2 linked regions of the Homo sapiens genome follow. The protein of the gene in region 1 purifies or fractionates together with the protein of each later gene. This does not show direct contact. Each region holds a gene or a part of one and is shown on either strand. Other genes may lie near its edges. The genes, in order: URM1 and NSUN2.

Evidence for each region.
Region 2: the proteins of URM1 (region 1) and NSUN2 purify together in Homo sapiens (co-immunoprecipitation; one study listed by IntAct). This does not show direct contact.

Annotation. Positions count from the first base shown.
Region 1 is NC_000009.12:128,374,057-128,377,873, forward strand, and holds part of URM1 (ubiquitin-related modifier 1), read left to right. Parts: intron 1-3,817. UniProt on the Homo sapiens protein: Acts as a sulfur carrier required for 2-thiolation of mcm(5)S(2)U at tRNA wobble positions of cytosolic tRNA(Lys), tRNA(Glu) and tRNA(Gln). Serves as sulfur donor in tRNA 2-thiolation reaction by being thiocarboxylated (-COSH) at its C-terminus by MOCS3.
Region 2 is NC_000005.10:6,619,517-6,623,333, reverse strand, and holds part of NSUN2 (RNA cytosine C(5)-methyltransferase NSUN2), read left to right. Parts: intron 1-48; coding exon 49-120; intron 121-1,233; coding exon 1,234-1,318; intron 1,319-3,035; coding exon 3,036-3,228; intron 3,229-3,817. UniProt on the Homo sapiens protein: RNA cytosine C(5)-methyltransferase that methylates cytosine to 5-methylcytosine (m5C) in various RNAs, such as tRNAs, mRNAs and some long non-coding RNAs (lncRNAs).

The sequences.
Region 1 (3,817 bases):
ATATGTCAGTTGAGTTTGAATAGCAGATCTTATAAGACATAAGAGAGTCTGGCCTTGGTCTCTCCTGGGCTAGAACAGGCCCCTTGTCTGCCTCCCTGAATCACTCTTGAGGCTGGGCATGCACCTTCCCCCACTCCAGATGTGCTGACAGCAGAAATGCCAACCCCTCCCTTGAGGGCCAGTGAATTCAGCAGTGACAGGTCACTCTCTGAGCGAGACTGGTTCTCCCTTCATCCGCTTGTAAAGGGAAAAACAGCCTCGGCCTCTGAGCCTGGCACCACCAGGTTTGGCCAGTCTTGGTTGTTTGCCTAAGTCCCAGTGCCTTCAGTTCCCATCCCTCTTCTCTGACCCCCAACTCCTGAGCCCCTTGCCTGTCACCCTCCCCCACCCCAGCTGCTGCATGTGCCAACCCCCCACCCAGGAGAAAACGAGGCTCTTGGAAGGGAATAAATGGAGGCTCTGTGCAGGCTTGCAGCTGAAATGGCCCTGTGCGCGGCCACAGATGGGCCTCCTCTCCCCCTCCACATTTCTGCATCAACAAAGCGTGACCTTGTTTGGATGACAGTCGCCCCATGTTTTCCCCATGACAATGCTTGCCTTGCCTTTGCCTCCCAGCGGGCTGTCTCAGGACATCTCTGTTCCCTGAAATTGGGAAAGGGTGGTGGGGTGGAAGACATCTCATTCTTCAAAAGTCTGGTGAGGCCTTTTCAGTTAAGATCCACAAGAAGTCTGAGATGGGAATTGGGAGACCCAGAGGGAGAAGCAGCATGGGGCGCTGAAAGAGCCCTGGCGCTCATCTCAGAAGCCTCAGCTTCTGGACTTGGCTCCAATCATCTCTGCAGTCCCCGCCTTCCCTTGGCCAGGTGCTGGGACACAGAAATGAACCAAACTCTGCCCTCAAGAGGCTTTCTGACCTTTGGGAAGTCCTGTTTTTTTCTGACCAGTCTGCTGGTGCTAAGCAGGAATCAGTTAGACTGAAATTATAGTTCAGCCCCTGCCTCTCTAACCTTGGACAAGTTGGTTGCTTAACCTCTCTAGGCTTGAGTCTGCTTTTCTATCAAAGTGAGCAAATAATATCTACCTCCTTCCTTCTTCCCTGGGACTCCCTGAGGATGAAATGAGATGAGGAACATCTTATAAATGGTGAGGCGATGTGAACAGTTGTTCTTAGTTGATGCCAGGCCTCATGGACTCTCTCAGCCTCCAGCACTGTGATGTACCCACCAGGTCAGCAGCAGGTGGCATGGGCAGGAGCATTCAAACCATCATCTGGCCAGAGGAAACCCCTAGATGCACAGGGTCTCCAGAGTGCCTCACAGTGGCTCCCCAACATTTTTCCAGATGGAAAGACTGAAGCTTAAGATTGAGTCAAGGCCAGGCATGGTGGCCCACACCTATAATCCCAGCACTTTGGGAGGCTGAGGCAGAAGGATTGCTTGAGCCCAGGAGTTCAAGACCAGCCTGGGCAATAGAGTGAGACCTCACTATGTTATAAAATATTTTTAAATTATTATTAGTTTTGAGATAGGGTCTCACTGTGTCGCCCAGGCTGCAGTACAGTGGCATGACCTTGGCTAACTGCAGCCTCAACCTCCCAGGTTCAGGTGATCCTCCCACCTCAGCCTCCCAAGTAGCTGGGACTACAGGCGCACACCACCATGCCCACCTAATTTTTGTAGTTTTTGTAGACACAAGGTGTTGCCATGTTGCCCAGGCTGCTCTTGAACTCCTGGACTTAAGCAATCCTCCCTCGCCTCTCAGCCTCCCAAAGTGCTAGAGTTACAGGTGTGAGCCACTGTGTCTGGCCCCCAAAGTATTTTAATAACAAAGAAAAAAGAAGATTGAGTCACACATCTAAGGTCTCAACATAGGGAGAGGTGGAGCCTGGGCTTCACATCGGGGCCGGCAGCTCCAAAGGCTGTGTTCTGCACCTGTGTGGTAAGCTGCCTCTCTAGAAGGCAGAGGAGTAAAAACAAGAGTCGGCAAATTTGGGTACTTGATTTTTTTTTTTTCTTTTTAAATAATTAGAGACAGAGCCAGGCATGATGACTCACAACTCTAATCCCAGCACTTTGGGAGGATTGCTTGAGCCCAGGAGGTCAAGACCAGCCTGGACGACATAGGGAGACCCTGTCTCTACAAAAAATAAAAATAAAATTAGGCAGGTGTGGTGACACGTGCCTGTGGTCCCAGCTACCTGGGGGCTGATGTGGGAGGTTTGCTTGAACCCAGGAGGTTAAGGTTGTATCAAGCTGAGATCACGCTACTGCACTCCAGCCTGGGTGACAGAGTGAGACCTTGTCTCAAAAAATAAATAAATAGGCCAGGCACGGTGGCTCACGCCTGTAATCCCAACACTTCGGGAGGCTGAGGCAGGTGGATCACGAGGTCAGGAGTTCAAGACCAGCCTGGCCACAATGGTGAAACCCTGTCTCTATTAAAAAAAAATACAAAAATTAGCCAGGTGTGGTAGCACGTGCCTGTAATCTCAGCTACTCTGGAAGCTGAGGCAGAGGATTGCCTAAACCCAGGAGGCGAAGGTTGCAGTGAGCCAAGATCGCACTACTGCACTCCAGCCTGGGCGACAGAGCGAGACTCTGTCTCAATAAATAAATTTTTTTAAAAAGTAAAATAAAATAATAAAAATAGGCCAGGCACAGTGACTCATGCTTCTGATTTCAGCACTTTGGGAGGCCAAGGCAGGGAGATTACTTGAGCTCAAGAGTTCGAGACCAGTCTGAGCAACATGGCGAAATCCCATCTCTACAAAAAGTACAAAATTAGCTGAGTGTGATGCCATGCACCTGTAGTCCCAGCTGCTTGGGGGTCTGATGTGGGAGGATTGCTTAAGCCTAGGAGGTCAAGCCTGCAGTGAGCTGTGATTGTGCCACTGAACTCCATGCTGGGTGACAAAGCAAGACCTTGTCTCAAAAATAAATAGATAATAATTTCCCGGGTGCCTAATGATAATAATAATTACATAGAGACAGGGTCTTGCTATGTCACCAAGGCTCTATTTCACTGAGGCTCATCTCAAACTCCTGGCCTCAAGCAGTCATCTCGCCTTGGCCTCCCACAGTGCTAGGATTCCAGGTGTGAGCCACCACACCTAGCCGGTACTTGATTATTAGTAAAAATTATATCCTACCTTGCCACATTAGAAGTCATATTTAGGAATTGGTCACTGGGTCTGGGCAGAGTGGCTTGTGCCTGTAATCCCAGTGCTTTGGGAGGCTGAAGTGGGAGGATTGCTTTAGGCCAGGAGTTTGAGATCAGCCTGGGTAACATAACAAGACTCCATCTCTACAAAAAATTTAAAGATTAACCTGATATGGGCCAGGCGCGGTGGCTCATGACTGTAATTCCAGCACTTTGAGAGGCCAAGGTGGGCGGATCACCTGAGGTCAAGAGTTTGAGACTAGCCTGGCCAACATGGTGAAACCCTCTGTCTAAAAATACAAAACTTAGCCAGATGTGGTGGCTCATGTCTGTAGTCCCAGCTACTCGGGAGGCTGAGGCACGAGAATCACTTGAACCTGGGAGGCGGAGGTTGCTGTGAGCTGAGATCACACCACTGCACTGCAGCCTGGGCAACAGAGTGAGACTAAACAGAGTAAAATAAAATTAAATATAAACATAAATATTAATATAAAAAGTAGCCTGATATGGTGGCATGCACCTGTAGTCCTAGCTACTTGGGAGGTTGAACAGGAAGGTCTCTTGAACCCAGGAGTTCAAGGTTACAGCGAGCTATGATTGCACTGCTGCATTCCAGCATAGGCGACAGAGTAAGAACCTGTCTCTAAGAAAGAAAGGG
Region 2 (3,817 bases), on another chromosome or scaffold:
GTTTTTTTTTTTTTCCTAATTGTTGCTGATTTTTTTTTTTTCCTCAAGGGAAATATTAGTCGTCAAGAAGCTGTTAGCATGATCCCACCACTGCTCCTCAACGTGCGGCCTCATCATAAGGTAGCATATAGCAACTAGAAACGTGGGGGCGGGCAGCTTGTTACCAGTGTCATGCCTGTTTGTTTTGATGAAACCATTTTTTCTTAATATAATTAGTCCTTTTTTTCTTCTTTTCACTTTGGATAGAGAGTGATATGTACGTATCTTAGTTTCTTTTTTTTTTTTTTTTCTTTTTTGTCCTACTTAATTTTTATGGTTTAGAAAATTTTCTCCCCTTTAGTTTTACTGATTTGTTTACCATATGGATTGTCTTCAGTGATGGTGATTGGCTAAATTAGGTTGAAAATGATAGTGAACATGTATTGAGAGCTCATTGTATGGCAAGCATTACTCTGTGCTCTTTTTTCTTTTCTTTTTTTTTTTTTTGAGATGGAGTTTCACTCTTGTTGTCCAGGCTGGAGTGCAGTGGCGCGATCTTGGCTCACTGCAACCTCCGCCTCCTGAGTTCAGGCAATTCTCCTGCCTCAGTCTCCCAAGTAGCCGGGATTACAGGTGCGCACCACCACACCCTGCTAATTTTGTATTTTTAGTAGAGACGGGGTTTCTCCATGTTGGTCAGGCTGGTCTCGAACTCCCGACCTCAGGCGATCCGCCTGCCTTGGCCTTCCAAAGTGCTGGGATTACAGGTGTGAGCCACTGTGCCTGGCCTTGCTCTGTGTTTTTTAGGTGAATTAGTTGGCTTTATCATTCACACAACCCTCTAAGGGCAGATACTGTCACCATCTCCATTTTTCCAGATGAGGAAAAGGAAGCAAGGAGAAGTACTTGAACTGAGGTTACGGAGCTGTTAACTGGCTGAGCTGAGATTTGAGTCTAGGTAGCTCTGTTCCTTAGCATTATGTTTTCATGATTCTTACTTGTTCATCTCTATATTTAGTCTCTCTGGCTTACAGTTTCATTCTCCTCCCATCCTCTTTGGAGACTGTACCTATATCATTCTGTGATTTTGGGGCAGTGTAGAATCCCTAAAAGTAAATTATGTCATGCTATAGACTCTGTAAAGAAGTATATTTAGATCTTGGACTAGAAATTGAAAAACTAGAATTGCTTTAAATTAAATGTAGAATATTTGGTTTTTTAAAAACATGAAACAGTTTCTTGCTTTGTTAATAGATCTTAGATATGTGTGCAGCACCTGGCTCAAAGACCACACAGTTAATTGAAATGCTACATGCCGACATGAATGTCCCCTTTCCAGGTATGCATTGGACTTGTGTTCAAAATGGTAGGAATGCCACTTTGGCAGATTGTAGACAAGGAAAAGACTCTAACTTTGCCTGCTAATTTGGCTCTAAAGTCTCCTATGACAAGCAGTTGGGTTTTCCGTCTACCGGAAGTAGAACTGGACATCTTGCCTACCACCGTCAGTAGTACTCAAACAAACACACTCATACCATGGGGGAGCTTTATTTTAGAATTATGTGTGTTTTCTATAAAAACGAATGGCATTTCTTTTTTTTTTTTTTGAGATGGAGTCTCACTCTGTTGCCCAGGCTGGAGTGCAGTGGCGTGATGTTGGCTCACTGCAAGTTCCACCTCCTGGGTTCACGCCATTCTCCTGCCTCAGCCTCTCGAGTAGCTGGGACTACAGGTGCCCGCCACCATGCCCGGGTAATTTTTTGTATTTTTAGTAGAGACGGGGTTTCACCATGTTAGCCAGGATGGTCTCGATCTCCTGACCTCGTGATCCGCCCGCCTTGGCCTCCCAAAGTGCTGGGATTACAGGTGTGAGCCACCACGCCCGGCTGCAGATGGTGTTTCTTTATCAAGCCTACTTACAGAAGATAGATTTCACTGTTTGAATTTTTAGTAACAATTTCCCCTTTCCCCCACCTTTGTTCATTATTATTACTATTATTATTATTATTATTACTTACTGCCTTACATGAAGGGTAGTAGTGTGTAGTTAAAAGCTACCATCAGACTCCCTGGGTTCAAATCCTAATCGGCAAGTTACTTACAGTGTTAGACATCCCATGTGAAATGGGACGAATCAGTATGTAGCTTGCGAGGTGCTCAGGAAATGTTAGCTGTTATAGTGACACCACGCCCCTTTCTCTTAAGTGGAAACAAATACCCATCGTGATGTTTTAGAGTCAGCTTTCATCTCGTCCTATCTTTGTTCAGGCAAACTTCTCTAGTTCTGTTTTAATAGGCATATTTGTTAGGTCTGTTTTTTGAAATCCTCTTTTTTACATTGTTTAAAGATAATGCCTTGGCTAAAAAGCCTGCTTCACTTTTCCCTGTTTTTAGTTGTTTTCTCCACATTGGCAGTAAAGAGCCTTGGCGTCCCAGTAGCAGCAGGTTCTCCTTTTTGTATTGTGGATGTTTTGCATTTCATACTGTTGTGAAGAGTGGCTTTGATCATACATGTTGTTGGTATATTTGCCTTTTTGCTGGGGGTGTGAGAAGAACCAGAGATGAGCAGAGGTACACCCAGTAGACTTCCCAGCCTGCAGAGCCTCCCGGGAAGAGCTTCCGTGTTCAGGTGCTTGGGGCCCCACCCTAGGAGCCTGACTCACAGTCAGAGCAGGGTCCCGGCTTGTGTTCAGGATTTTGAAACATTTGTAAGGTGATTTTGTTGTTTCTACACCTTTCTCCTCATCTTTTTTTTTTGTAGTTAATCGTTACTAATAACAGAAAAGACATTTTTGGCATGGTAATTGGCACAAAGTGAATAATTGTTGAATAGATGACTTTTGAGGCTTTCAAAATTCGAGTGTCCATAAAATCCATCCAGAGCCACCTGGTTCCTTTTTTTGAACCACTTAACGTAATTCTGGAAAACCTTGACTGTGGGTCTTAAGTTTGGTGGATTGCTGCTTCTCACTGGCTGACCTTTGGAGGTCGCATATTTCAGGATGTGATTCCACTTAGGCTCCATTTCACCTGACACTGCAATTCTGTGCCTTCAGAGGGATTTGTTATTGCGAATGATGTGGACAACAAGCGCTGCTACCTGCTCGTCCATCAAGCCAAGAGGCTGAGCAGCCCCTGCATCATGGTGGTCAACCATGATGCCTCCAGCATACCCAGGCTCCAGATAGATGTGGACGGCAGGAAAGAGATCCTCTTCTATGATCGAATTTTATGTGATGTCCCTTGCAGGTATTTATCTTATTGGCCAAAAAGCCCAAATCCACTAAAGAAATCAAGTCAAATAGAGACTAAAATGAAGTTGTGCATGAATATGACACAATTGTACATAAGTCTTGGGGTGCGGAGAAAGATAGCGTGAGCCTAAACCAAAAGATGGACACGTAGATACGTCTTAATGAGAAGCAGCACAGCAGATGCTGGATAAAGAACAGAAAGGGGTGGTTGCAATAGCCTGCAGAAAGATAAAGAGAAAACAAAACAAAACAGAGAAAATACGTAAGAGGAAAATAGAATCGTAGACTCTTATTGTGGTGTGTTTTAGGATGTTATTGCTTGGAACAATTTGTGCACCCCAACTATTTTGTATTAGTTCTTCCAGTGAGTACAGTATATAAAAAACTTTGTCATAAAATAATACGTAATCACATTGGATTTTATGTTATTTAGTTGAATGAAAGAAATTTCGGAGTTCAAGCCCTTAAGAAATTCATTTTGCTTGTGTTTTTATACCTTTCTTGAGATAATACATCAACATTTTAGATATTTAGAGTTTAGATATAAAATAATACTCATGGTATAACTGAGTAACAAGTTTTTT